4 separate regions of the Homo sapiens genome follow, and regions 1, 2 and 4 are each linked to region 3. Evidence: fine-mapped expression QTL. A gene starts in region 3. Each other region holds a variant in brackets. All regions are shown on one strand. Distances are between the middles of the regions.

Region 1 (7,732 bases), 23 kb before region 3:
CGGGATGAGCCAGGGCGTCGCGTCGGGGGCTCCTGGAGGGCTGCATGAGCCCCAGCCCAGTTCCGCTAAGAAGCTCCTCCTGGTCCCCACGCTCCAGTCTCTAGGCTGCGGGACTCAACCTTCAGGTGGCCAACGTACCCATGGTCGCGTGATCCTTTCCTCTCCCTGTGCAGGCAGACGGCACACGGACCTCGTGCAGGGCCATCACCGCCCAGAGGAGAGTCTGTGCCTCGCTGCTGACCGGGGGCCCTGAGGCATCGGGCGTCCTCCCATGCACCCCTCTCGCCCACGCCCGGGTCTGGAAGGTGAGCCCCCGCCTGGACCGGTGGATCCCTCCCCATCGCCCCTCTGATCTGCAGCCAGCACAGGGGGAGGCCCCTCCAGAGGGTGGAGGCACAATTGCCCAAGTCCAGCTGCCAAGAACAACAAGGAGAAGGGCGAGTGGGGTTCCCCTCCCCCGACTCTCCATCCCAGACCCCCCTCAAGGGCCAGGCGCATTCACAGGAGACAGGAAGCACCACATCTGATGTCTGCTGGGCCTGCTCACCGCTTCCCGGAACGTGCCCGCTATCTCATCAGGAAACACCAGGCCAAGCCTCTCCTGTCAGCCCTCTCCGAGTGGGAAGAGGCAGGAGCTCCTCTCTCAGGGCCGGGGCCCATGAGCAAAGTGCTTCCCTGGGGACCGTGGCGAGGAGCCCCCTTCTGGCCAGCTCGGCTGACCCTTCCTTCAAGTTTCTGCCTATGCCTCGATTCCTCCACTTCCAGCCTCCAACCCAGGACCCCATCAGCCCTCCCTGACAGTGTGATTTCTAAAACCCAGGACCCCGAGACGCCGATGACTTGTACTAGTGTAGTCAGGGTATGTCCTGCCTGTTTTCTTCGATTCCGTGTCAAATGCTGGTGCTGGCAGGTGTTGCACGGCCTCAAGTCATCCGCCCCCCTTGGCCTCCCAGAAGTACTGGGATTACAGGCGTGAGCCGCCGCACCCGGCCTCCCATATTCTTTTGCAACGACCATCCTCCTGGTGCCCTCGGCCCTGAGTAGGGAGGCTGGACTGGGAGCACAGGGAACCCTGGACTCAAGACAAGGAAGGACCACAGAGCTTGCAGGCAGGAAGTGGAGGGGAGGGTAGGTCCTGGACTGGGAGAACAGATTCCAGACCCCGGCCAGGAACCGGTGGGATTCCTGGGAATGGGGCCAGGGAGTGGACAGAAGTGAGCCTTGGTCTGCCTGGGGCCCGAGTGACCAGTAGCGACCCCAGCTCCCTCTCATCAAGAATGGGGAAACTGAGGCATAGACAGGCCACCCATAGCGCCCCAGGCAGAGGCCACCAAGACACGGCCGCTTTGCTGTACGTGGGGCTTTTCAGGCGAGGCCGGGTGCGTGCAGGAGATCAGAGGGGCGGAGCCCCGAGGAGACGGAGATCCAGAGGGGCGGGGCCCCGAGGAGACGGAGATCCAGAGGGGCGGGGCGCCGAGGAGACGGGGATCCAGAGGGGCGGGGCGCCGAGGAGACCGAGATCAGAGGGGCGGGGCGCCGAGGAGACGAGATCCAGAGGGGCGGGGCCCCGAGGAGACGGAACTCCAGAGGGGTGGGGCGCCGAGGAGACCGAGATCAGAGGGGTGGGGCGCCGAGGAGACGGAGATCCAGAGGGGCGGGGCGCCGAGGAGACTGGAATCAGAGGGGCGGGGCCCCGAGGAGAGGAGATCAGAGGGGCGGGGCGCCGAGGAGACGGGGATCAGAGGGGTGGGGCGCCGAGGAGACGGAGATCCAGAGGGGCGGGGCGCCGAGGAGACGAGATCCAGAGGGGCGGGGCCCCGAGGAGACAGGGATCCAGAGGGGCGGGGCGCCGAGGAGACGAGATCCAGAGGGGCGGGGCCCTGAGGAGACGAGATCCAGAGGGGCGGGGCCCCGAGGAGACGGACATCAGAGGGGCAGGGCCCTGAGGCGATACCATGGCCCATGGGGTCAGTGCCACAGTCCTCCCCAGGCTTCCTTGCGTGACAGCCCTGGCCCGAGGCATCCAACCCATGGGCTTCCATCTTCACAGCCAGAGGGAGGAATGAGCAGGGCTGGTCTGCAGCAGGACAGGTGGATCCTGGGCCAGGGCGTTAAACTTAGCAACTGTTCCAGGGCCCCCTGGAGCAAGCGACCTTCCCATAGCAACCTCTCAGACCCCTGGTGCTCGGTTTTGGGAAGCAGGTGGCACATCTGTGACAACAAGGTCCAGCAGCCACCACCCAGGCCCATCTTCACACCTGGGATCCCAGCCTCTGCCCAGCCTCATGAGCGAAGCTCACACCACGCAGCAGCTGTCTTGGGCCACCCAAGGAGCCACAGCTGCCCTGGGAGCTGTGGCTGAGTTGAGGGCCATCATGCATGGGGCCGACAGGCCACGGGGCCCCCCTGGGAAGCACCCACCTGCTCATTTCTTTTCTTTCTTTTTTTTTTTTTCTTGCTCTATCACCCAGGCTGGAGTGCGGTGGTGCAATCTCAGCTCACTGCAAGCCCCGCCTCCTGGGTTCACACCATTCTCCTGCCTCAGCCTCCCAAGCAGCTGGGACTACAGGTGCCCGCCACCAGGCCCGTCTAATTTCTTTTTGTATTTTTAGTAGAGACGGGGTTTCACCATGTTAGCCAGGATGGTCTCGATCTCCTGACCTCATGATCTGCCTGCCTCGGCCTCCCAAAGTGGTGGAATTACAGGCGTGAGCCACCGTGTCGGGCCCCACCGGCTCATTTCTAACCTTCAGTATCGGCCACAGCAGCGTTTGAGGTGGAATTCTACATTTTTATGGTTTCTCAGTAAAGCAATGCTTCCTGCCCTTGCTTTGGGCTGAGCCCCTGGGGTTTCAGGGCGTCTGGGGCCTGTGTTGGGACTGGGCAGGGGTCCACACTATCTTCATCTGAAGTGTTCTCGCCAGTGGACGTCAGCCTGACCTCCCATCCCTCCTGCCGCCCTGCCACCAAGCTCCTTCCCTCTGCAGCTGGGGCCACTCCCCCTTCCTACTGCCCTGAAGCTCTTCCTGCTGGACAGGCACCAGGCCATGGTGGGGAGTGTCCCTGGACGAGGTATCCCAGATGCACCCCAGTCGTGGCTGCATCTGGGCCCTCCCTGGAAGTTGCCCATTCTCTGTCCTCGGTGTCCTCCGCCCTCAGCAAACACCACAGGACTCTCCCAGACAGCAACCCACGTGCAGCAGCCATGACCGGCACTTCCCAGCACTGCCGGGCCACTGCCTGGAGTACACACCTGGCCCCAAGGGGCTGTTCCGTGGCAAGGAGCACGCCCTGGGAGGCGCCAGCCGTTGGGAAATCAGACAGAGTCTGCTCCACCGGGAAAGCCACACGGAGCTCAGCTGGACTCAGGCTCGGGGGAGGAAGCTCAGGCGCCTGATCGCTGGGGCAAAGCAGCTGGAGGCCGGAGAGAAGGGCAGGCCCTGACAGCAGGCAAGGGTGGCCTGCACCCACCAGGCTGGTCTCCTCACCGGACTGAGGGCCTCTCTTCCCCAGGCACCCACCAGGCTGGTCTCACAGGACTGAGGCCCTCTCTTCCCCAGGCACCCACCAGGCTGGTCTCACCAGACTGAGGCCCTCTCTTCCCCAGGTCCCTGGCCGGCCTCCATGTCCTGGTCCCGGGCCGGCCTCCATGTCCTCCACCACTCAGCCTCAGTGGATCACTGGACAGACTGCAGGGAGTCTTTGCCAGCCTTGGGGTTTTTCCTCCCCAGGTTCCAGTTCTCCCACAAATGCCCTCTGCTCACCTCTGAGAAGTACAGGAAGAGCCGTGCTCAGAGGTCCCACTGGAGACCCCTCCAAGGCACGGCAGGTGCCAGCAACAGCAATGCCAGGGCACCCTGCCCAGAAGCAGAGCCAAGTGAGCAAGGCTGGGGGCTCTGGAGGTCCAGACAAGACCCTCTGGGGGCAGGAAAGTCAAGTGTCCTGGTCGAGGTCACACAGTGGCTGGGACCAAGGACCCCTCTCCACGACCCTGGGAAGCACAGCTGCCCGTGCAGAAGTCCAGACCCTGGTGGAGCTCGGCTCGGCCCCACGGCACGGGAGAGGCAGAAGCTCCAGCAGTGAGTTCTCCCTGAGCTGCAGCTGCAGCGAGGCATCCCCGGCACAGCCCCACGGCTCCAGGTGGAACCGGGAGGAGGAGGAGCCTGGGGACCACTCAAGAGTAGCCGGGCGGGGAGCACAGCCCCTGCAGCGTCTCCTGGGCAGAAGCAGGTGTGGTCAGGACGAAGGAAGCACCTGGTCTGTGGCCCAGACAGTGTCTCCTTCTATCCACATCCGGAGCGACACTGAGGTGGGCTGAACAGAGGCTCCGGTGGACAGAGACCCGTAGGCACCGCCCAGCCTGCCCCTGCTCAAGCTGCCCGGGTCGCTTCTTACAGAGCCCCACTGTGCTGCACTCACATCATCTCACAGGTCCTGCCACCCTTGTCCACCTGCCCACAGACCCGCCACCCCCCTCACGGTCCTGCCAACCTTGTCCCCCCTCCCACAGACCCGCCACCCCCCTCACGGTCCTGCCACCCTTGTCCCCCTCCCACAGACCCACCACCCCCCTCACGGTCCTGCCAACCTTGTCCCCCCGCCCACAGACCCGCCACCCCCCTCACGGTCCTGCCAACCTTGTCCCCCTCCCACAGACCCACCACCCCCCTCACGGTCCTGCCAACCTTGTCCCCCCGCCCACAGACCCGCCACACCCCCTGTCCGGCCCAGGGAAGTGCAGTGCCTATGGGTGGGACTGGCAGACCCGCCGGCCGACACCCAACCTGGCAGCCGCTGTGGCCAGAGACCAGTTATCTACCATCAAGAATGTGCCCTTGACTATTTTTATGTCATGTGTGTTTTCTTTCTTGCCTCAGTTTTTAGTAAAGTTCCTTGTTGGGCATTTTAGTCCAGCTCAGCAGTGCTAAAAGGGGAAAGAAAGGGGCGTTGGGCTGTTTCTGGGCGGAGAGTGCCGGGCAGAGTGGCTCCCGGCCCCTCACCCTTCCCTGGGCCCTCCACCCCTCCCGCAGCGCCCCTCCCCCTCACCGGAGCCCCCCGGGTG[T/C]ATTTTTGTTTCTTTGTTTTTTAGCATATTTTTCATCTTGCCTCTGATCAAACTGATGGCTAGAAAAGTATGTGGCTTGGTAAGCAAAATTCTTCTGAAGAAATTCCAGAGCCCCCGGCCGCCGTGACCTCACCGCCCCGACACCAGCCAAGCCTCCGCTGTCTTTATAAATCACGGCCCGCCCGGCTGGCAGCACACAGTGGCCCAGTGTTGACTCCGGATTCCTCACGTTCCCTGGCGTCCCCCGTGGGGCCCCTGCCCCGGCGGTCGGGGAAGCAGAGCGGGCAGGCTGGGGGTCCCTGGGCGGCCATCCCCTCCCTGCTGGGTGAGCCGGCGTCCTCCCTGCAGGTCTGCGTCCCCACGTCCCGCCCCTGCCTTCCGCCCCTCAGAACCCCTGCCATAGCCGCACTGCCACGACCTCCTGCTGTTAGTGGCCGCCCCCACCTCCGGAGCCCGACCCACTCTGCTCCGAGGCTGCTGGGATGGGCACCCACCTGTAACCAAGTGTGAATAGCAGAGCCGGTGCTGGCTGCAGGCCAGACACCAGCAGGGCTGATCAGGCCCCAGGCCGCTCCTCAGGTGGGGGCAGGACCCAGTGTGCACCGGCTGAACCGGTGCCCACTGCAGGCTGGCACAGGGGCTGCACTGGGAACCAAGGCTCTGCCCTTCTCCCAGGACTCAGTCTCTGTGGGAGACCAAGACCCACAGCCCAGGCTGATGTCCTAGAGGGAAGACCTGGGGGTAGGGGGCACTGGGGAGGGGAGGCATGGGGCCTGGTGGGGGAAGGAATGGCAGGAGGGGAGGGGGTGTTGGGGGAATCCCACAGGAGAGGAAGGAAGAGGCTGAGGTCACAGGCACAACAAATCCCAGGAGAGCAGGGCCCAGGAGCACCCGGTGCCGCCTCAGAAGGCTCTCGGGCCTCTGCTCACAGCCCCGTGCCCCTCCTGGTATTGAGTGACCCACCTGCCGTCCTTCACAAGGGCGGGTTTAATCCCAGCAGGCAGGTTCCCAGGAACATGCCCGTGCACAGTAGGCCTCCCTCCATGCTCGCCCAGTGAGTGGTCAGGGAGGAGAGGACCCCGGGGTCTCACCAGCTCCTCTCAGGACCCTCACCATTTTGACCGCACAAAGGAGCAAAGAAGGGTTCCCGAGGGCAGCCAGGGCCGGGACCCCACCAACCGGCCTGACTGATGAACTCCGGGGGCCGCTGCCTGCACAGAAGGGGAGCGGACAGCCCGGCCGGGGCCAATTCCCACCACGCCGGCCTGGTTTCTAAACAGTTTAATCAATTAGCGAGGTGGAAGCCCTCAGTGTCAGCTGCAGTGCTAATGAGGGGCCCCACCCCCACCCGTGGGACCTGCAGCCGGACTCTGGCCCCTCAGCAGGGCCTCCCAGTGCGGTGGGGTGGGGACAAGGAGGGGGGCTGGGAACCCAGCTGTGCAGCCCCCGCCACAGGCTCAGCCACACGGTGTCCAGTGCCCGGCCCTCCCTGCAGCCAGCTTTCCTTCTGGAACCGCAGGGAACCTCTGACAAAGCCCTCCCAGCAGAGGAAGCTCAACTCACAGGATAGCCAGGAAGGGGGGGCTCCTCATGTGGAGGGAGTCGAGGTCGAGGGAGGATGAGGGGTGAGCCAGGACTGTCCCTGCCACCCCAGCGTCCCAGCTGACCCCTCTCTCTCACACACACAGAGACACATGTGAACACGGACCACATTCCTGCCCAACCTGAGATGGCTTGACATGCCGGGGCCTCGGCCAGCCCTGTGACGAGCTGGAAACCGAGTCACAGCTCCCATGGGGCCCAGCGTTTGCAGATGGGGGACCAGCATGGAGCTGTGGGCTCTGGTTGCTCTCAGCTTCTCTCTCATGGCCATCAGCCGACTGGACCCCAGGGTGAAAGGTGTAGGCGTCTGGGCATCCAACAAGCAGGAGGCCCCCCGCCACCCCACATAGGCTGCCCCCTCGACCCGCAGAGTTCTTGGAAAACCTCCAGGGCTTCCCGGAGGGAAAAGGGCAGGTGGAGGGGGCAAGTGGGGGCCGGAAAAGTAGGGGCAATCCTCACGCTGGGAGCAAGGAGGAGCCTTGCCAACTCCCCTCCCCTTATGGGGGGACTGACAGATACGGGGCTCCTGGGAGAAGCCACCGCCCCCGAGAGCTCCAAAGCCTCTGACTTGTCTTGGGTAAGTCTCACTGCTCTTGCAGCACCTGGGGGACGATGGGGGCCGCCCTGGAGGGGAAGCAGTTGCTGTCCGGTGCAGGTGGGACAGGACCAGGCGTTCAGCGAGGACAATGCAGGCTGCGTTGCAATCCGACGGCCTTTCTGGTTGCTCTCCGGGGATGAGTTACACCCTGAGCCCCAGCCTTCTTGCCTTCATGTGGAGCTCCCCAACCTTCTCTAGTAGCAAAGTCCAGTGAGCCAGGACCCCCTGCATTGGTGATGACCTAGTGAATCCAGGCTCCAGCCAGGGCAGTGTCTCCCCCTGGCCACCCTGCACCTCCCCCGCTGGACTCCCTCCCACCCACCCTGGCCTGCCCAGGTCAGATGCCCCCAGCAGATGGAAACCCTCAGGGCTGGGTGCAGCATTCACCCCTGGGGTGCCAGGCAGGGTCATGATATCAAGTCCCCAGGAAGGAGCTGGGGGTGCAGATCTGCAGGCAGGGGTGTCCTGCA
Region 2 (8,201 bases), 130 kb before region 3:
GCTGGTCTGTCACACACACCGCACCAAGTCTGTGCTCAGGATAAACCGGGGCACACTCTGAGCTGGGCCTGTCTCCGGCTTCAACCAAAAAGCCTGAGCTCTAGCAGGTGAAGGACCAGACGTTTCTGTGGGGCTATGGACTTGTCTGGGAGGCAGCCACCTCTAAGCCACCCAGGATGGTTTCGGTTGTGTTTGGATGGAGTTCTGAGTTTTGCCAGTTAAAATTCCCCCTTCAGGAGCTCTCTATGGGGTTAAAGTGCAAGATTTGGGGTAGAAAAATGACAAGTCAGAGGACTGGAAGGAACATTATGGACTGTCCTCCCTTCTGCCTGAAGAGATGGGGAGACTCTCCCAGGCCATGTGGAAGACCTCACAGGGGGACCAACTGCTGCCTTTCAGCCTGGCCGAGGGAAGAGCCCCTGACTCAGCCTCCGCAGGAGGAGGTGGGCTGGAACCAAGTTTCCCTGCATCAATCCAGGCAGGCAGCCCCGAACAGTGCACTCCAACATGGGATAGTGAGCCAGCTTGGGGGACGGCAGCTGTCTAAACAGGAGCGTGCAACCCCCATGCTGAGAGCTCCCCAGGGTCACGACTACCCAGAGTCAGAGCTGCCCAGGGTCACAGCTACTCGAGGTCAGAGCTGCCCCAGATCAGGGCTGCCCAAGGTCAGAGCTGTCCTGGGTCAGAGCTGCCCACGGTCAGAGCTGTCCTGGGCATCAGAGGCGCAGAGGTGGGAAGGGCTGGCTTCAGGTGGGAGTTATAGGTGGGAGTTATGCTACAAAGGGTCTTGAAGGCCAGTGTTGTTGACAGGGTAGGGTGCCTGGGTAATAGCAGAGGAAGAAAAAGGCTTAGAGTTGGAGGGAAAAACATGAACTGGAGTTGGGGGAGTGCACCTGCCCCCTCAGAGACCACAAAGCCTCCCCAGGGCTGGGCTGTGGCTGCTGGAGCTCCCAGCCCATGCCAAGTGTCAGAGCCCGGGCAAGACCCTCTGGGGTAGCCCGGGACCACCAGAGGTCAGAGCTGGAGGAGGCTCAGCTGGGGCCCTTGCACCAGGCAGGAGGCCCAGAAAAGAGACAGTGCTCTTGAACTGCAGGAAGGCAGCTCCGTAGAGAGGCAAATCTCACTCCAGCTCGGGCAATACTCAACTACACGGACGTGGATGCTCTCAAGGGGGCTTTGGGGCATGTGGTGTCGGCATTGGACCCAAATATGGGCTCAAAGCTTTCCTTTACCATATTCTTTCTACATTTTTCTTGCAGATTGAGAAGGGATAGGGAGGAGTTTAGGGAAGTGAGTGAAGCAGGAAGATGTTGACCAAGGGAAGTTAATTCCATAAAGAGGAGGATGAGGGGACAGAAAGGCAGGAGGAAGAGGAGGAGGAGAATCTTCGCACAGGGGGTGTCAGCTGATGGGGGCAGCATGGGCGCCCATGGAGCCCTTTAGGGGTCGTTGGTTGTGTGCAGAGAGGCCACAGCAGGCGAGGCAGGCAGTGTCTACCAGCCCCAAGGAGACACCAAGAATCCCTGTCCTTAGGAAGTCCCCTCTTCCTCCTCTTGAGTCTCATCTCGGAAAGAGGGAGCTGTCAGTCAGAGCTCAGGCCAAACACTGGGGCTAATAGGTGAGAGCAGGGACCTGTGGGGTCCTCACCGCTGTCCCCTTCTCACCTTTCTGGCTCAGGCCAGGCTCAGCCCCCAGTGGTCTATTGTCTTTCTATCTGTCATCTATCTACCTACCCACCTATGTAACCATGCCATCTATTTCATCTATTTTTATCTATCAACCATCTATCATATATCTACCTACCTACCTCTGCCCTTCTTTCTCTCTACAAATTAGAGGCCACATCCCTGGCCGCTGAAGCCTTGTACCCTGACCCACTGTCTGAACCTGATGGAGTCTAAATGCAGTGAGCGGGTGCCAGCCTTCCCTGGAGCTCTGCAGAGGCAAGGAGGGGGTGGATGGAAAGACGGGAGTCCCTCCCCTTAGGTGAGGGGGGGAACTAGGGCCCGGGGAGATGCCCAGGCCTGGCGGCTGGCGTACGTGGGTTCTCTGTGGCCAGCAGGCGGCGCTGCAGGAGGGGAGATGCCCAGGCCTGGCGGCCGGCGCACGCGGGTTCTCTGTGGCCAGCAGGCGGCGCTGCAGGAGAGGAGATGCCCAGGCCTGGCGGCCGGCACACGTGGGTTCTCTGTGGCCAGCAGGCGGCGCTGCAGGAGGGGAGATGCCCAGGCCTGGCGGCCGGCGCACGTGGGTTCTCTGTGGCCAGCAGGCGGCGCTGCAGGAGAGGAGATGCCCAGGCCTGGCGGCCGGCACACGTGGGTTCTCTGTGGCCAGCAGGCGGCGCTGCAGGAGAGGAGATGCCCAGGCCTGGCGGCCGGCGCACGTGGGTTCTCTGTGGCCAGCAGGCGGCGCTGCAGGAGAGGAGATGCCCAGGCCTGGCGGCCGGCACACGCGGGTTCTCTGTGGCCAGCAGGCGGCGCTGCAGGAGCGCTCAGAAGCAGGGGCCTGGGCCTGCTCCGGGGGAATCCGCCCACCCCACCGCGGCGGCCTCTCCTGAGGTTCCCTAGTGGCCGCGAAGGGTGGGCTCAGGGTGAGGGGTCAGGCCACATCAGTGGGTGCAGGGATGGCTGCGGCCACGGGAGGGCGTCCAGGGAGGAGGCCGGAGCTCAGGCCCACTCTGCACACCCAGCCCGCCACCTCCCCCGGCTCTCTCTTCCTTCGTGCACATTCTGGGGCTTGTGCTTCTGCTGTGGTCCCATTTAGCCAACCTGGCCAGCCTCTCATGCCTGCTTCATGGGTGAGACGTGGAGGCCAGGTCAGCCACAGACCCCGGGGCACACGCCGCAGCCAGCACAGCAGGTGGGCGTCTGCGGCCGGGGCCAGCGCAGGGCCCACTGGGCCTCGGAGGGGCCTCCCTGCCGACTCTGCCCCCGTCCTGTGGCCGTAAGTCCACCCAGAGCGCTCGATCTTCCGTCCACCAGGCCAGGGATGCGCGCAGAGTAAGGATGTGTGTGTCTACGCATGTGGGGGTGTGGGTGTGACGGGGTGTGTTCTGTGTGAGAACATGTGTGTAGTGTCCACATGTCCTCTGTGCGTGAGTCCCTGTGTGTGATGTTGTGTTCTGGGTGTGAGTTCATGGGTGTGACGGGGCGTGCTGTGTGAGAACATGTGTGTAGTGTCCACATGTCCTCTGTGCGTGAGTCCCTGTGTGTGATGTTGTGTTCTCGGTGTGAGTTCATGGGTGTGACGGGGCGTGTGCTGTGTGAGAACATGTGTGTAGTGTCCACATGTCCTCTGTGCGTGAGTCCCTGTGTGTGATGTTGTGTTCTCGGTGTGAGTTCATGGGTGTGACGGGGCGTGTGCTGTGTGAGAACATGTGTGTAGTGTCCACATGCCCTCTGTGCGTGAGTCCCTGTGTGTGATGCCTGTGTTCTCGGTGTGAGTTCATGTATGTGTGTGTGAGTTTATGCTCTTGTGTGTCAGCACATGGGTATGATGTGGGTATGTTCTCTCTGTGGGTGAAAACGTGTGTGATGTGGTTCTTTGTGAATCTCTGTGTGTGACGTGGTGTGTTCTCTGTGTGAGTCTGTGTGTCTGGTGAGTGTGTCTGGGTGTGTCTGGGTATGTGCGTGCTGTGTGTCTGTAGTATGTGTTCCTGTGTCTCTCTAAGCTGGTAGCTTCATCTCTTCCATGTTCTCTGACATTCAGAGGAATTTTCTCACAAATGTGTCCACAACATGGCTGTGTGCCATTTCTCCTGCTTTGGGGAGCACCAGTGTCTGCAGAGAGAAACGTCCCTGCTCCTGCCCCTGCATTCACGGCATGACCCTGTTTGCCCAGCTT[C/T]CCCCCATACACAGCCCCGGACACACCCTCCTGGGGGAATGTGGTGGGCTCCGCACTGACCGCAGGATCTGCCTCTCACCAGGGATTCATATCCACACGAAAGGGCCAGAGCAACAGCTGGCACATCCCCTTCCTTCCTCCACCGTTCCCACTTATTCTTCAACCAGCCCTAACCAGGCAGGGAGCCCAGGTCCCACGGAAAATCTCTATGAGAAAGTAAGACAGAGGGCAGACCTCCGCCGTGGTCCCTGGAGAACCAGTCGGCGCTGACACCAGGAGCAGGAACTTACTCTTTCCCAGAGGCAGGCAGGGACGGTCATCCTTGCCCAGAGGCCTCGCCTAGAGTGGGGTCCCAGCCCTGCAAGGGACCCCTAGGAAGGGAAAAGGAGCCACTTGTACATCCTTGCTTCCTACGGAGCCCTCACATGGAGCACATGGCCACTTCGGTCTGGGTCTCTCCGTGCTGCTCACTGTGCTGGTGGGGTGTGCTGCGGAGGTCTCTGGGGAGGTCCCAGGAGCGAGAATGGACCAGGCCCAGGGTAGAGGTGCAAGAGGGTCCTGCCCTTGGCTCCCTCCCCCGGCACAGGCCAGTCAAGGTGGAGAGGAGGCCCCAGCTTGTCCAGCTGGCAGAGGCTAGCCAGGGGGACTGACATGGTGTCACTCTAACCCTCATTTTTCTCAGCCCTTCCATTCCTTATGACTTCTTGCTAGGAGAACCCTGACACCATCCCTGCTGACACTGGAGATATTCCAGAGAGGCCGATCGTCATTGAAAGGGAATGCTCCGTGAACCCTCTGAGCCCTCTTTGACTTCAGAAGCAATAGTATCACAGCTCACAAATTCAGTAGAAAGTCCGAGTTGCATCAGTTTGGAAGTCATGCGGTCAGGCTTCCTGTACCCAGAGGGTGATTCAGCCGCAGAAAGCTCTGGGCTGCACCCCACCCACCCCTGGCCTTCAGGGCCCAGCCACATTGAGGCTGCAGGCGAGCCTGGCCCCCATGCCTGAGAGCCAGATTCCATTCCCTGGCAGCCTCACCTTGGATCGGACAGGGAGGGATCCTAGGACACCAGCCTCGTCTATCCTCCCTGGGACACCCTAGAACCTCACAGCCTGTGGGAAACACCAGGGCATGGAGGGTCAAGCCTACAAAATCCCCCAGTAGGTGATTAGGATAAGGTGAGCACTGGCCCTAGCTGACTCAGGCCAGCCCCCCAAGCAGCCAGACCACGTGAGAAGTGATGGCCACACAATGCTCTGGGTGTCTCAAGGAAAGTCCAAGAGCAGTGGCACTCCGGGCTGCATCCTTGGAGTAAGCACAGAGCAAGACCCCAGCATGCTTTGCAGACCCCGCCTTATGAGCCCTGCACCCCACTGCTCCGGGAGGGGTCAGCACCCCCATGCCAGGGCTGGTTTTCGGGGTGGGTGCCTGGACAATCTGAAGGACCTTTCGGCCACAAGGTGTTGAGAACTCTGCAGAGGATGCTGGGGATTAGCACAACAAGCTCTGCTCCTTCAGGCTGTGCGAGGCCTCATGAAAGCTCCTAAAAATCAGAGGAAGGGCCATGGCAGAGCCTGGGACAAGTGGGCAGCTCACAGAGGGGACTGGGTGCTTGCCATTAGCCCAGACTTCTCCCACTGCTCCTGCCTCAACTGCTACTGCCCGGAGTCTAAGCCCACTTTGTTGACAAGTACCCATTCTATAGAGAGCCTCGCCTAACTCCAGGTAGAGGCAGAAAAGTGTGTGTAGATCAAATGGCCCAGCTGGCAGCAGAGCCAAAAGTCATGCTTACTTGCTGGCCAGCCTTGCACAAGGCACCAAGGGTCACCTCTGCAGGCTTCAGATCCTGCCCTCTGTGAACAGTCAAAAAGAAGGTGTCAGAAGGAGCTAGAGGATGCAAGGGTGGCCAAGGGGCACAGAGGAGGGTCAGGTTACACTGGGAGGGAAGAGAGGCAGCCTTTGCATTCTCTAGGAGAAGCAGGGCGGGAGACTTTGGAGCCCAGCTCCCTGATGGGACATATGGGAACCTGCGGGGACAGGAGAGTGTCTTTGATAGGCGAGCCCAGTGCCTCTTACCTTCAGGAGGGCGCCTGAGCTGTGAAGTCTGCCCCTGTTGCTCAGAGATAGTTCCCTCCAGCAGGAAAACCTCTTTGAGGTGAGTTACGGCTTCTGGAGGCACAAGGATGGGCCGAGGTCACCAGGCCTTGCCTGTCCACCTTACCTACCCTGAAGTGCATGACCTTTCTTAGGGACAGAGCCTCTCTAGTTAATCTTAGAGCCTGGCCAGGAGCCCAGGATGGGGCAGCATGGGGCACAACACTTACTAGATGGTCAGGCGAGGGGAGCAACTGGGACCCTCCCCTCCAGTTCGAGCCATGTGTGTCATGTATGTGCATGTACATGTGTGTATGTAATGTGAAGTCAGATGTGTGTATGTGTGCATATGCAAGGACATGCTAATGTGTGTGTGCATGTACACGTGTGAATCTGTGCAAGCACATACAAGTGTGCATGGGCGTGGACATGTATGTGCATGCATGTGGAAGTAAGTGTACAGGTACAGTCTGAATCTGTGTGTGCACACACAAGTGTGCATGGGTGTGGGCATGTGTGTATGTGCATGCATGTGGAAGTGTGGAAGTGTACAGGTACAGTCTGAATCTGTGTGCACACATAAGTGTGCATGGGTGTGGGCATGTGTGTATGTGCATGCATGTGGACGTGTGTGAGTTGCCCTAGCACATGTTTGTACATATGCTTGTGTGCACCCATGCTAGGCTGCTCTCCCTCCTGGTTCTCTTTCAGGACAGGCCAAGTGAACCAGGGCGAGCTCTTCTCTCCCTCTGACGGCCCCTCCACAGGAGAGGGACCTGGGACCAAGGTTCCTTCAGCCATCAGACCCTAAGTCTCAGGGCACAGGGTCAGAAAGCTTCTAAGGACCCATGAAAATATAGAAACTGGGTGAAATTAACTCTTATTGGCCCGACATATGAAAAGAAAATTGCTTTTGAGCTTCCAGGAGATCTTCTCAGGTTTTGTTTTGGGGATTTCCTGGGAAGGGCATGTTTCCAAACAAGACTCTTGCCGTCTGCTCCCCCGGAGCTCCCCAACCAGCCAGGAGAGGCCACTGGCAGGGAAGAAGGTCCAGCCCAGCACAGACTCCCCAGGGAGGGCCCCAGCCCAGTGGAAGGACCATGGAAACCATGTCAGTCTCCCTCAGCGGCTGCCCTGGGTTGACATGTCCCCTTAGGGATCTCAGGCTCTCAACCCTCTAGTCAATTCTGAGCTGAGTTTTTCTGGAGCTTTATATTCAACTCTGACTTTGCTTCCCTTCACCTCTACTCCCCACCCTAGAAATAGAAACCTGAGGTCAGGAAGTGCTGAGGGTCCTTGGGTTTGGTGTCGGGGAAGACACCGTGCTGACTCGAACCCACTAGGCCTGGAGCCCAAAAGTCCCTTCTCTGTGACCTGCGACAAGCCTCTACAGCCACGTCTCCTTCCCTGTGGTAACCGAGTGACACCAATTGGCTCCCAGCCACCGCTGGGCCTCAGGCAGTTGCAGTGGCTTCGGCACTGGCTTTGCTGAGCCAGTGACAGCGACGGCACCTCCTGGATGTGAAATGTGCCAACACCCTGGCCTCGGGGACCGTACGGCGTGGTGTGAAATTTCTGTTTTAACGCTCCATGACCACATAGGTCTTGGCTTTTTATGAGTAAAGCAGAGACCGTGTTGTACCCAAGCTCTCTGGGTGGCACCCACAGCTTCCTCAGCGGGGTAACGGTGACGGGTGGACAACTGGCCCACAGGCAAACTGCACGTCCCCCACGGCGAGCATCTCTGAGCTGCACTGACCAGTTCAGGCCCATGCGTCACCGGCATTTTTCTGAGCCAGCTCCTCTGGTTCATGAGAAGGTCTGAATTCAAGAAATGAACGCCCAGCAATTAGCAATGTCCACAGAATCAAAGGAGCATGGTTTTAGTTGTCCTCCCAGGCAGCTTTGCCAGTCCGGGTATGAGGTAAAGCCAGAGGGACCCTGCCTCACCCACGCGCCCCAAGAGGGGTCCAAGGACCACCGACTGTCCCCACTTCCCTGGAACTGAGGATGAGGCTGATTCATGTGTTTCCTGTGACGGCCACGACATCATCATATCCGCTCGGAGAACTATTTTTAACTGATTTATGTATTTCTTGTATGAGGAAGACACCAACTTCTCCTTTAGTCAGTTTTACAGGAAAGTACTGCAGCTGTGCTCAGCTCAGCAATATTAATCGCCACAGAGCACCCTCCGAAGTCTTGCAAAAATTAATAAAGTTGGAAATATGAGTCAGGTTTGGATGCCACTCATTCTGAAAAAGAAG
Region 3 (6,578 bases):
CCGCCCCTGGAGGTGGAGGGGTGGCCTCCCCGCCACCCTCGGCTGCCTACCGCGCCCTCCCTTCGGGCTCCGGGAGGCGCCCCCTCCTACCGGGCACACAGTCCCCTGACACCCTGAAAAGGGCGCCGGCCCCTTCTCGACACACTCGGCCTGGGTGGCGGGGGCGGCGTTTCTGGCTTCGGTCTGCTGGAGCGGAACGCCCCGGGCCTCGGTTCGGGGATGCACCGACCCGCCGGGCAGAGGCAGCGAGCCGGGGCTGAATCACTCCGCGGGGGCAGGGGCGGCCCCAGAAGAGCCGTCGGCCTCGGAGGCTCCCGGCGCCGGCGTTCCCGGCCGACCCCCCCCAGACCTCCATCCGCCCGCGGCCCCGCTCGGCCGAGAAGGGAGGCGGCCGCTCCCGGGACAGCCGGGCACCGCCCACGGCCCTCGGGGCGACTCTGCCCCCCAGCGCCACGCCCCTTCCCCCGGGGAGGCTCCGCCGGGGGCGCTGGGGGGCGACTGTGGCTTCGCGGGGACCCGGAACGGAGGCTGCGGCTGCGGGGAGACCTGCGCCCGCCCCGCGGACACCACCCGCCCCGCACCGGCTCTGCCCCGACCTTCTCGGAAAACAGCTTCGCTCGACATCACCGCGTGACTCGGCCCGCGGCGGGGGCGGGGGCGGGGGCGGGGGCCGCGCCGAGGGGAAGCGGGACCCAGGCCCGGGCCAGCCCGGCCACGGCTCTCCGGGAGGCGCGCGTCACTCGGGTCCCCGCGCATCTGCGAACCCCGGAACTGGCGACTGCGAGGCTCGCGCAGGGCGGGTTCGGCCGCGGTGCCCTCGGCGCCCTGGGCTTCGCGTGGGAGCGGCGGCGGCTCCCGAGGGGCAGTCGCGGTCGGCGCCGCTCTCGGCGGCCACGCTTGAGTCAAAAAAAAAAAAAAAAAAAAAAAGTCCTCGGCCGCCACCGCGGGTGGGGGGGGGGGGGGTCGCCCAGCGCAGCGCGCGCCGCGGCCAAGGGCGGCCTGACCTTCACGGGGCAGGGGCGGGGGGCCCGGCCGGAGCCACACTCGGCCCGGCTCACAGGTGCCCGCCCGCGGCTCCCCGAGACGGAAGTGGCCCCCGCTGCGGTCCGCGCCCGATCCCCGAAACCGCCGCTCCCTCCCGCGGCCGTCCCTTCCCGCTCTGGCCCGGGGCGGCCTCGGGGCGCGCAACTCCCGGAGCCTGCCAGGAAGGGCCCGAGGACCGACCCCCGCCTGCCCCCGGGATGGGGTCGCGGGACCGGCGGCCCCCGAGGCTCGGACACGCGCGGAGCCGGGACCCACCCGGCCGCGCTGCAGGCGCGCCTCCCCCGGGCGTCCTCCGGGCCGGGAACCGGGACGCCGCGGGCTCTTTTGTTCTAGAACCGGGGGCGGGGGACAGCGGGCACCGGACTGGGCCTGGAGAGCGGCCCCCGGAGCCCCTGCCCCGCGCCCGCCCCCGGCCGCGCCCCCGCACGCTCGGCCGGCCCGGGACGGGAGGGGACGCGAGGGGAGGGGGCCGGGCCGGGGTCGCGCCGCGCACACTCACCTCCCCTTCCAGCTGCACCGGTCGCTGGAGTACTGCGCGCCCGCGCCGCCCAGCAGCCCGGCCAGGAGCAGGAGCAGCAGCGGGAGCGGCGGCGGGGGCGGGCCCGGGGCGGGGGGTCGCGGCCACGGCTGCCCCGCGCGCCCCCAGGCCGCCCGCGCCGCGCCCCGCATGCTCTGGCGCCGGCTCCGCCGCCCGGCCCCGCGTCCGCGACCCCCGGAGCAGACCCCGGAGCCGGCGAGCCGGGCGGGGGCGGGGCGGGCTTCGAGTCCGGGTGGTCACGTCGCGCGCCCCCCGCGTCCTCCGCGCGGCCGCCCGCCCATCCCGGCCCGCTGGAGCCGCGCGCAGAGCTCCGCGCCCGCCGCCGCCGCCGAGCCTCTGAAGTTGGCGAGTCCGAGTCCGCCCGGCCGGGCTCAGCTGGGGGGTGGGGCCCACCCGCCGCCCCGCCCCGCCCCCGACCCCGCCCCCGACCCCGCCCCGCGCCGGAAACTCCTCCCGGGGCGCCCGGCCGGACGCGCAGACACCGAGTCAGCAGCGAATCGGGGGCGCGGGCGCCGGGGCGGGGGGCGCTGCAGGAGGAGGGGGCCGCGCCGGGCGGCGAGCGGGGTCCGGAGGGAAGAGCCCGGCCTGGAAAGCGGAGTCCGGGGCCGGAGGGGTTGCAAGGCGAGGGCGGGGCGGAAACCCGAGACCCCCAAGTAGTGGCCGACGCGAGCCGCGGTCGCCCCCCGCAGACCCCCGCGAGGCGGTGCCGGGGCCGCATCCTGCGCCCCATCCTGCGCCCCATCCTGCGGGCAGCCCCGGCGCGGAGCGGTAAAGGAGGCTCCCGGCCCCGCCGGTTCTGGGTCCCCCGCGCCTCGCCAGCGGGCGGTGATCAGGGGCGATCCGGGCGCCCCGCGTTCCGCAGAGTTGGTGCCTCGGGAGTTCCCGGCTCCCTCCTGACCGGGGGGGAGGCCCGGCGGTGAGCCCGGCTTCCCTCCCTCCTCCCGGAGGACGTGCAGCCGCCGCGCCGGGGCCTCTGCCGAGCGCTGCCCACTCCTCGCTCCGGATACGCGGGGCCGGGTGGTTCTTGGGGTGGGGACGTCCTGCGCATGGTGGGATGTTGGCAGCACCCTGGCCCCCGCACTCTGGGTATCAGTAGCAACCCCCGCCCCAGCTTTGACAACCTAAACTCTCTGCAGATTTGGCCAAATCCCGCCCCCACCCCGTGCCCGCGGGGCAGAATCACCTGCGGAGCGTCCTGCTCGAGTGTGTTCCTCGGAGTCGGCGCCTTCCCCAGGTGGTCACCGCGGCCACCACGTGCCTGACCCAGTGGGGGGGACAGCGGAGACCCCCGCCCGGACTGGGGAGGCCCTAGAGACTCAGGCCAGAGAAGGGGAGCCAGAGGGTGCCGAGGGCCCCCCAGGCAGGAGAGGGCGGAGCTGGCCCGCCCGGCGGTCCCCGCTGCGATGGCAAAGCTGGCTTCTGTGTGCTGCGGGTCAGTGGCCCTGCCCGAGACGCCTGGTGTCAGTTCCAGAGCCGAGCGCAGCATCCAGCGGTGGGGAAGCTTGGCCTTGTCCCCTTTTCCAGCCAAGATACCTTCCAGGAGGACTTGCGAACGACCTGTGCAAGTCTGAATAACTGGGTTGTGACTACCAGAGGAGGCGGGGAGAGGGCTTTGAAAATTGTGAGTCTGCAGGGACGGAAGTCACCGGCAAAGGCAGGTGGAGCCCAGCCCCCAGCCCAGGAAAGCTGGGACAAGGGTGAGGGTCTGAAGAACTGGAAGGCGATGACAGTGACCACTGAAGGTAGTTTCATTGTAAGGATCTGTTCAGAGCACCCACCCCATCGAAAGCCTGGAGCCAGGACCTTGCCCAGCACATCAAGTGACATCACCCTGAGGCTCAAGGTCTGGTGGAGGTGCATTTCGGAGCTTGGAGACTGCCCCACCCACCCCCGTCTGCTCTAGGAGTGCACCTCCCCCCACCCCCATCACTGCAGGTACCAGGGTGCCCAGTGGAAAGGGACCTGCTGTGGAAAGGGACCTGCTGTGGAAAGGGACCTGCGGCTTCACACCTGTGCGCAGCAACTGCTTTCCATGCCCACCAAGCATAAGATAGCAGCCCCCCCAGGCCCGGTCCACCCTTGAAGGGCCACATGGCCTATCAGGGTCCAGATCATCACACCACGGAAGAGGCAGGGCAGTGCTGGGATCTCTTGAGTTATAGATGCGGACATGGGGAACTCAGGACCTGCCGTGACCTGCTCAGGGTCTCAGAGCCCCTGGTGGCTGCTAGACCGAAGGGGAGAGGCCGCCTCTGGTCAGCAGGCAGCTGGTTCCAGCCTAGGCTGGGGCAGAGATCTGCCACCTGGCAGGATGCCCAGCCTCCTGTGCCCAGCGGGCTGTCCTAAGACTGGGATCGTACGATGGTGAGTATGGGACCCACGTGTACTTTTCAAAACCCGTAGAAAATACAGCACAAGAGTGAATCCTGATGGAGGCTTGAGACATTTGTAATAATAACGGATCAATATTGGTTCTTTGACTGTCACACGCCTACACCCTAATGAGAGAAGGTAATCATAAGAGAAACTGGGTCAGGGAGAGGGTGTGTGGGGGACCTCTACCATCTGCTTGGTGTTTCTGTAAACCTAAAACATTAAGTCTGCTAATTAAAACAAAACAAAACTAGAGTAAGAATGCTTGCTGGCCAGTATTCTCGGAAGAAGCTAATCTGTCTTGGGAAAGGAGCCTGGCCCTTTCCACCCTGGGGCTGTGGTTCCCCAAGCTGTTCCCTTGAGGAGGTTCATGCCCCAGAGACATTGGGTGCTCCTGGGCACCTCTGCTGACCCCTGTCCTGGCCCAGCGAGGCCACCTACAGGTGAGACGTCCCCTGTAGACGGGGTTCCTGGTGTCAGGAGGTATCAGGCTCCTAGAGGATGCAGGCTGAGGTGGTCAAGGCTGTCTGGGGGTGTTCCCAGCCACTGGTACACTGCCCCTTGTACCACCAGACCCCGAGAGGCCGATTATGAACCAAAAGGATCCCAGCTGGTCATGGTGTGTGGCCCTCCCCCTGGTCCTCTGGGAGGGTCTGCAAGGAAAGGGCCTTGGGTGTGTTTGTCCCTGGATGTCTGGGAAGGGACTGCTTCCCAGTGAGCATGTCACGGGGTTAGACCCAGGAAGGGGCCACAGCATCATCCCACCCACCCACTCGTGGGAAGGAGCTGGTCTTCGCAGCTTTGCGTGAAGCTCTGATACTTCCTACCTGAGTCGGAACGTTGAGGCTGAGCCGTGGAATCGGAGAGCTCCAGAACCCACCAGGATCACGCCTGCCCATTCCCTCTACCGGCGGGCCCTGCAGTGATGCTTCTGCATCCTGGGAGATGGCAGCTAAGGGACCTGGGCCAGGGGGGCCTGTGGCCCAACCGTAGGTCTACATCAACCCTCTCTCTTTCCTCATCTATCCATTCCCTCGAGAAACAGCTCTCAGAAGCCTCCTGGGCAGACGTCCGTGAAAAAAATTCTGGGTGCACCCTGGACAGTCCTTCTGTGCCTCACCAGGGTCTGAGGCCTCAGAAAGCAGGACGTGGCCTCCCATGTCCGAGGACCACGACCCACTGTTAGGATCGAGTGACCTCGGCAGGGTCACCTCTGTGTATTTGACCCGGGAGTTTTTATCGCGTGCATTGCAGGGACCCAGCACCTGGGAATTTGCTGGGGTGGAGGGCTGTGGGACTGGACCCCTTTCTCGGCCTTTCCTATGCCGGGTGCCTACAGGCCCTGTGGGGTGGTGGACGGACCTGGCTCGGACGTCAGCCCCCAGCTCTGGGTCACAGACATGGTGGGGTTGGAGTCTGTTTCTGAGCCTCAGTTACCTGCAAAGTGGATCTGTTCTTGATTCCCAGGGCGTCGTAGGGTTTACGATGTCAGGATTCAACGCCACGTCCCCAGGTGGGGGCTGATTCTCACCTGTTCAAGGCACCACCGGGCTGTCATCAGGCCTTGGGGCCCTCATGGGGCTGGGTGGGGGGAACCCCTCCCGCCGTGCTCCCCACAGCTGCGAGTTCTCTGAGCCACTGGCACAACCCGGTGGACTTTACTGCTTTTATTTTTGGCCCAGTCTTGAGGTTTTCAAATGTGTGTTGACGGCCAATGTGCTGCCCAAGATGACCAGTCACCTGAATCCACTCACTAAAGAAACAGCTCCTCCCAGAGTAGCTGGATTCCTCCAGAAAAACATCACACGGTTTCCCCAAGCGCGTCCATGAAATTTTCTCTTTCAGCATTTGAAAAATACTGAAGAACGTCGCAGTCTGTCGTTCACGTGAGCACAGTTCATCCCACGGCCCCGCCCAACCACCACCTCCCAAGTCATTTGCCACCCGTTTCCCTCCCAGGCCATTTTCGCCAACCTTCTCGTAATTATCGTAATTGTGGTTGAATGATACATGGAGAGCCTGTGCTTGTAACTCAACTTCAATGAGCAACGTGTAATTACTACACGAAACAGCCACGGATGCCAGCCAGCCTCCACCTGATGACCTTCAGTGTGTCATTCTTCCCTAACCCCCTCCTTAACCTAATTTGCTGCCATGTGCTGCTCTCTGTGCGTCAGAGAAAAGTGGGAGTAGGGAGTTTCCTTGAGTCAGATACAAGTCCAGGCCGATGCTGGCCGGCTATGTGACCTTGGGTGGTGCTTGCCCCCAGGTTGGCCAGGTGGAGAGAGGCCACCAGCCGCCAGCTCGGCAGTGAGAGACAGTTCTGTGTGGCACGCTGGCCCCACACCGTCCTAGCAGTTGTTTGTAGCAGCTGTTCATGGCAGCATCTCACCCTCCGCCCGGCCATGAACCGACCATGGCCCCAGGGCTGGTGAGCTGTAGTGACTCTGCCATCTCGGGCACTCAGACCCCACAGGGAAGGAGGGTCCTCGGCCTCCGCGGGGTGGTGTCAGGAGGGGCCATCTACAGTACACGGTGGATTTGTACACAGAGGTGGACGTCTGCGTGGACCCTGACCACGGCCGGTCAGATGTGCTCAGGGGCAGGACCGTGAGCCCAGTGA
Region 4 (6,958 bases), 49 kb before region 3:
AGATACCAGTTTTCATACATCTGCTCGGTGAAAGCCAAGCTTTCGACAACCTGCCGGAGGCCAGCCTCGCCTGCTGCTGGCGGGAGCACGGAACAGCACAAACTTCGATGGAGGAGAGTTCACTGCACTTAACAAAATTGCAAGCGCGTCTGGCTCTGACCCAGCAATTCTAAGAATTTACCAAATCAATGTAAAAATAATATTTTTAAAAGTATGTGTCTTCGGCCGGGCGCGGTGGCTCACGCCTGTAATCCCAGCACTTTGGGAGGCCGAGGCGGGTGGATCACGAGGTCAGGAGATGGAGACCATCCTGGCTAACACGGTGAAAACCCATCTCTACTAAAAATACAAAAAAAATAGCCGGGCGTGGTGGCGTGAGCCTGTAGTCCCAGCTACTCGGGAGGCTGAGGCAGGAGAATGGCGTGAACCCGGGAGGCGGAGCTTGCAGTGAGCCGAGATCGCGCCACCGCACTCCAGCCTGGGCTACAGAGTGAGACTGCATCTCAAAAAAAAAAAAAGTATGTGTCTTCAATGATACTTACATCCTAAATGCACATCAAGGAGAGGACCGGTCAAATGTCTCGGCAGATGCGTACAATAGAATACTATGAGGCGTGAAACAGAACACGAAGTTCTTTTTGTAGTCATATGAAAAGATCTCCAATAAATAATATTAAATTAAACATAAATACGCAACCCTCAAGTGTGGGCTGTGTAGACTGACTTCCTTCCCGAGAGTATGGAGAGGGAAGGAAAAGGATCACATCACCGTGGGGAGACCTGACCGACTCCCCTCAGCTGGGTGGCCGAGGCCAGTGTCCACAGCAAGCATCCGTGCTGGGTGTGTGAGTCCCTCACAGGATGGGGTGAGCAGGGCACTTCACCTCTGGGGTCATTGTCCCCAGGCCCCAAACCCCAGTCTTACCACGAGAAACACATCAGAACAATTCTAACAGAGACGCAGCTACCAAACACCCAACAGGCCTCCTCAAAACTGTCCCAGTCACCAAAAGCCAGTCTGAGAACTGCCCAGCCCCGAGAGGCCTACGGAGACGCGGGACAAAGTGTCATGTGGGACCCTGGATGGGTCCTGGGACAGAGAAAGGACATTTAGGGGAAACTAAAGACGTGAATAAACTTCAGACTTTAGCTAACAATCATGTGNCAACACTGGTTCATTGATTGTAACAAAGTATCATTCTAACATAAACTGTTAACAGTGCAAGAAACTGGACGTGGGTATGTGGGAACTCTCTCTACGATCCCCTCAATTTTCTGTAGACCTAACACTGCCCTAAAAATAAAGTCTATTATAAAAATGAAAGAAAATTTAAAAATTTTTAAGTAACAAGGAGAAAAGTGTATGTAACATCCTGCCGTTGGTGTAAAAGTCAGGGAATATGTATTTGTATTGAACTGTATGTGCTAAAGGACCTCTGGGAAGTCACCTAAGACACCAGTGACAATGGCTGCCTCTTCCAAGAGGCAGGACTGAGCAGACGGGAGAGGAGGTGGGAGGAGTGAAGATTTTTTAACACATTTTGAAGTTGGAAATTTGTAAACTCGTTATTTAAAATGCTTAAATAAGGGAGGAGCGGGGGCTCGCCTCATGGGACCTGTCGAGGTGAATAAAGCAATGATTGTGAGGCCTCCCAGTGACGGTGAACTCCACCTACGGGATCCGCACAGGAAACATCACCCTTCGTCCTGGCCTGACCCGGCCCCGGGCGTGGTGGAGACCAATGCTCACTCCCCCGTTGCTGCAAAACCTCGGTGGCTTTAAACAACAGCAACTTCATTTTCTCAGGAAGCTGCCTCTGGGCAGCACCCCTGGGCTTGCCTCCGCTCCACTCAGCGCTGGACAGTTNTCTGAAGCTTTAGCAANCCCAGCCAGAGTCCATGCTCCTTTGAACACAGGTCCAAGAGCCCAGGGTCTGCGAAGCCCAGGTCAAGAAGCTCGGTGAGAGGTCTGAGAGGCAACAGGCGGGACCCACGGACACCAGCATGAATGTCCCGTTCCTCTCACTCTGTCTGGCGCTGGGATCCCGTAAACCTACAGCACATCCCACTGCAAATGTGAGGGCTCCACAGGAGACTCCTGAGTGGCACCGGGGAACGGTCAGCCCACAGGGCGTCAGGGGCCCTCCCCCAAATCCCTTCCCGGCTCCAGGATCTGCCCCTTTCTCACTTGGACTCCTCTTCCTAAGACAGGTCTTGCAAGGCTGATGGGGAATCAGAGAGAACGACCTGCTGGCCCAGCTCAGCGGTGTCGGGTGCTCTCCTGGGTGCCAGTTCCCAGATGCCCGGGTGTAGTCTGCAGAACCAGCTCCGTGTTATGCTTGAGAGTGACTGGTAGGTAGCAGGAATTCAACAAATACGAATCAAATGAACAAATGTTTCATAGCATTGTTCTGGAACCCCCTGGAAAGGGGCTCCAGGACCATGTGATCTCAAGGGTGCATTCTATGGGGGACACCCCTTTACGAGAAAAACTTGGGACTGTGACGTACCCCCTCCCAAACTGGGAAGGGTCAAAAGACCAAGAAATGACTCAGAAGGGTCCACGTTATCTGACGAGTCAATGTGTTGATCAGGATTTACCAAGGACACTGCTGCACAGTGGCAGGACAGCCCTGAGACCTGCGCCGCCTCCCGTCTCCAAACTATTTTAAGCTGATCTTCTGGCTTT[G/C]CCTCCTGTGTGTGTGTGATGGGGCTGTTTCCTCGGTGGGTTCTCAGAGCCTCTCCTCGATCTTTGGGTTCTCAGAGACACCAACTCCTGGCCTGGGCACCAGGGCCTTGGCTCACCACCTGGCTTTCAGGGCCCAGGCTGCGAACACAGGGCCTTAAGAACCTGGTGGGGGACCTGCCACCCTACAGATCCCACACCCCACCCTACAGATCCCGCACCCCACCCTACAGATCCCGCACCCCACCCTACAGATCCCACACCCACCCTACAGATCCCACACCCACCCTACAGATCCCACACCCCCCCTACAATCCCACACCCACCCTACAGATCCCACACCCACCCTACAATCCCACACCCACCCTACAGATCCCACACCCACCCTACAATTCCACACCCACCCTACAGATCCCACACCCCACCCTACAGATCCCGCACCCACCCTTCCAGCGTGGGGCTCTCGGAGAGGACGGCCTGAGCTCTTGCACTCAGCCCCTCGTGCTGTGGTGCCTGCCTTGCATTGAACCTCTCAGTGTCCTGTGGTCAGTGTCTGCCTGGGGTCGCGAGGACAGCTGTGGGCTGTGGTCTGAACATGCACAGGACCAAGGGCCACACACAGGGACATGGTCACGGCTGCTGCTGCTCAGGGAGACAGGCAGAGTCCAAAGCGTCTGTGCCCGGAGGGGCCATTGCCTGCCTCTGAGAGCAGCATCCTTCAGGCCGACTCTGTCGTCCCCAGGCACTTCCCATAAGTGACGATGTCTGCTATTGCTTGCTTTATTTTTTTTTTTATTGTTGGACAAAATTAAAAGTACATTTAAATCAGTCCTCAGCTATGGGGGGTTACTTAACCGGCCCATGAAGTCCAAAGCCAGCAAGCTTGTTTCTGGATTTACGGTTGAAGCTCGTGCCAAAGATGCCTCTGCGTTGGGAGGGGAATGTCCGTGTGCTACAAACCACACACACTTCAAACCCCCACAAAGCCCACACTGGGCTGCACGCATCAATGACGAGCCAGTATTTAACAAGGTGTCTGAATATCAGAAGGGTCTTCTCATTTATAACAGTAATGTAAATTTACAGACAGTTGTAAGAATTGCAAATTGTCCAAAACCTGCTTATCCTTCAAAAATGACAGTCTTCAGAATTCCATGAAAAAATAATGTCTCTTCCATAATAAACACAAATATTTGAAACACAGAAACAAACAGGTTGTTTCATAGAAACAGATGCCCAGGCGTCCACCAGACCAGAGGGCAGTGGTCACTCAGAGAAGAGCAGGGCCCTGGGAGAGCTGGCGACCGCCACGAGGCCAGAACTATGCATGTTCTTTATGAACTCCCAAAGGGTAGATTTTGCTGTGCTATGCCCTGGACTTAAGCCAGGATGACCCTCAACCTCCTAGGTAAATGACTAAACCCAAGCCCGCTGATGCAAGGTGGGTCCTGACCTCTGACCCAGACACTCCACCATCCTCTTTGAGCTCCTTGCGGTGACACACGTCCTCGGGGCCTGTCCAGACAGGGGTTGTGGCATCTGATGGCCATCAGCTTGTCTCAGAGACCAGGGGTCAGCCTCAGGTGCAAGCCCAGCTGAACAACAGAGGCCCTGAGCAGCCCCAGCCATTCCAGCCACGCCACTGTTCTTGTCCTCAGATTATTTTCTGTGCAAAGGGAAAGGGGCTGTTGCAAGAAGCAGACCCTCCCTGGTCACGGCACCCTACACTGCCCAAGGCTTCCCGGTCCTGACTGCCCCCNACAGTCGTGCGGCTGCCCCAATGGCCAGAGCTGCCTCTGCTGCCCCCAGCATTCAGTGGAGCAGGGGTGCAGGGTGAATGAATGGTAATCCGTTCAGAGAACCTGAGCAAACGCTGTGCAAGCTGCTGGCTTTGAAAGGAAGTTGTCATCACATGCAGGGAACCCTGTCTTACCAGCCGACAGGTGGATGACCTTCTCCCCTGGCAAATCCCCAGAGAAACAGACTCAGAGCTTCCCTCAGGAGTGACAGCCCCACAGGTTCCCTGCATGAAGGGACAGAAGGTCGGACCTTGCAGGTCACCAGGGGTCCCCTCTGCACCCAGGTCCATCGTCAGGGCTGGAGTCAAGCTGGGCTCCACCCGCTCAGGTGCAGGAAGCCAGGGGTTCGAGGGCGAGGGTGTGGCCTGCGTCACCTGCCACATGCACATATTTCCTACTGACGCCTGCACGCTCCTGATTTAAGGTGACGTCTTTATAGCACTAAGCGCGTGGTAAAAATAAACCCACACAGCCCATCCGCCGCACTGTGTTGCAATTTATTCTCTTAGGAAATTTCCAGCGAATGGCTACAGAGTTGCCGAGGTTGAGCTAGAATTTCAGTTCTTCAAGGACCCAGGTCTGCGCGGAACCCAGGGGTGTGGCAGGAAAAGGGACCAGAAGCCACATGTCAAGAGCCTGGGGGAGGCTTCTGCCAGCAAGTCTGACCACAGCCATTCTGATGCGGAATCATCTTTTTTCCCTGAAGCATTCCAAGGCCTGTACAGGATGCCAAAGAGCTGCTCTAGCTCCTTACAGAATGGATGCGGGCTTTTTTCCTGTGCAGGTGGGAAGGAGGCTGCAGGAGCCTGTCAGTGGGAGCTGCTCCTGCCGCAGCCGCTGCCAGCTCTGTTCTGAAGCACTGGGAACAAGAAGGCATCGACCTGTGTGTGTGCAGGAGAGAGAGTGTCGGCTTCAGGCACTACGAGCCCTTGGAGAGCAGAGATGCCGGGCTGTGTGCCCGAAGGAGAGCGGAGAGGGATAGGGGTTGCCAGGGCTCGGGGAGACCACAGCCCAGAGGTTGCAGATGCCGTCAGGGCTCAGGGAGACCACAGCCCAGAGGTTGCAGATGCCGTCAGGGCTCCCGGAGACCACAGCCCAGAGGTTGCAGATGCCGTCAGGGCTCCCAGAGACCACAGCCCAGAGGTTGCAGACGCCGTCAGGGCTCCCGGAGACCACAGCCCAGAGGTTGCAGACGCCGTCAGGACTCAGGGAGACCACAGCCCAGAGGATGCAGACACCGTCAGGACTGGGGAGACCACAGCCCAGAGGTTGCAGACGCTGTCAGGACTCAGGGAGACCACAGCCCAGAGGTTGCAGACACCGTCAAGGCTCCCGGAGACCACAGCCCAGAGGTTGCAGACGCCATCAGGACTCAGGGAGACCACAGCCCAGAGGTTGCAGACGCCATCAGGGCTCAGGGAGACCACAGCCCAGAGGTTGCAGATGCCGTCAAGGCTCCCGGAGACCACAGCCCAGAGGTTGCAGACGCCATCAGGACTCAGGGAGACCACAGCCCAGAGGTTGCAGACGCCATCAGGACTCAGGGAGACCACAGCCCAGAGGTTGCAGACGCCATCAGGACTCAGGGAGACCACAGCCCAGAGGTTGCAGACGCCGTCAGGACTCAGGGAGACCACAGCCCAGAGGATGCAGACGCCGTCAGGACTGGGGAGACCACAGCCCAGAGGTTGCAGATGCCATCAGGGCTCAGGGAGACCACAGCCCAGAGGTTGCAGACGCCGTCAGGACTCAGCCCCTGGGCCAGGGGTGCCCTCAGGCTGCTTCCCAGGGAGGAGCTTCATGGGCCCCATCCGGGGGATGCTCCTCTTTCTCGGGCTCCTTTGAACGGACTGAGGCACAGGCTTGCTCCACACACACAAGCTCTCCAAGGCCAGCCCCAGCCCAGCAGCATAAGCTCTGCCTGGTCCCTGGCGGGGCCCGGTCAACAGGTCTCCCTGTGCCCCCAACAAGCCCCCAGATGGTGCCACGGCTGCCCGAGCCCTCCAGGGGCTCCATGTCCAACCCACCTGGTCCACAGTCTCCCAGCACCAACCAGGGCTGGGGGGCCTCCTCCCCATTCCCCTTGGGCCATAGCAGCTCCAGTCCCAGCCATGGCCTCTGCTGTGCGGCTTCTTGGCTGGAACCCCACCCCTAAAGCGTGTGCTGTGCTTTCTCAGTGAGGCCACCCCTCTAACATCACAGCCCCCACGCTCCTCCCCAGCTTCCTCACAGCGTTTCTTCTGCACCACATTAGGCCGTCTTCTCGTTCGTTTCATCGTCTCACACACGTACAGGTTCATCAGCCTGTAGGCTCCACAAGGGCCTCAATGTTGATACATTTGTGTTATTAAAAATTTCAAACATAATACAAAAGTAGAGAAAATAGTAAGACAAACCCCAGTGTCCAGTCCCCTGGCTTCAGTAATTATCAATACTCGCCCATCTTGCTCATCCACATCCCACTCTCTCATAC

The links. PIP is the estimated chance that this variant, and not a neighbour inherited with it, causes the effect.
Region 1: its variant is the best candidate, but not a certain one, in a credible set for the expression of METRNL in monocytes after interferon gamma (Fairfax 2014, PIP 0.50).
Region 2: its variant is the best candidate, but not a certain one, in a credible set for the expression of METRNL in whole blood (INTERVAL, PIP 0.80).
Region 4: its variant is the best candidate, but not a certain one, in a credible set for the expression of METRNL in whole blood (TOPMed, PIP 0.59).

The regions. Positions count from the first base shown.
Region 1 is chr17:83,097,582-83,105,313 of GRCh38, reverse strand. No RefSeq gene overlaps it. Among named protein-coding and RNA genes, the nearest start is that of METRNL, 22 kb to the right of the region's middle. RefSeq lists an enhancer at 5,895-6,891. The variant T/C (reference allele first, on the strand shown) is at 5,063.
Region 2 is chr17:83,199,791-83,207,991 of GRCh38, reverse strand. The region is part of intron 2 of LOC101929650 (a long non-coding RNA gene); the gene reads right to left. LOC105371948 (a long non-coding RNA gene) reads right to left here. Exons shown (of 3, transcript XR_933965.3): 3 at 8,006-8,189. Among named protein-coding and RNA genes, the nearest start is that of METRNL, 120 kb to the right of the region's middle. RefSeq lists a silencer at 2,384-2,543. The variant C/T (reference allele first, on the strand shown) is at 3,841.
Region 3 is chr17:83,074,951-83,081,528 of GRCh38, reverse strand. METRNL (meteorin like, glial cell differentiation regulator) reads right to left here and starts at 1,920. Exons shown (of 4, transcript NM_001004431.3): 1 at 1,544-1,920. The coding sequence starts at 1,713.
Region 4 is chr17:83,123,798-83,130,755 of GRCh38, reverse strand. No RefSeq gene overlaps it. Among named protein-coding and RNA genes, the nearest start is that of METRNL, 48 kb to the right of the region's middle. The variant G/C (reference allele first, on the strand shown) is at 2,690.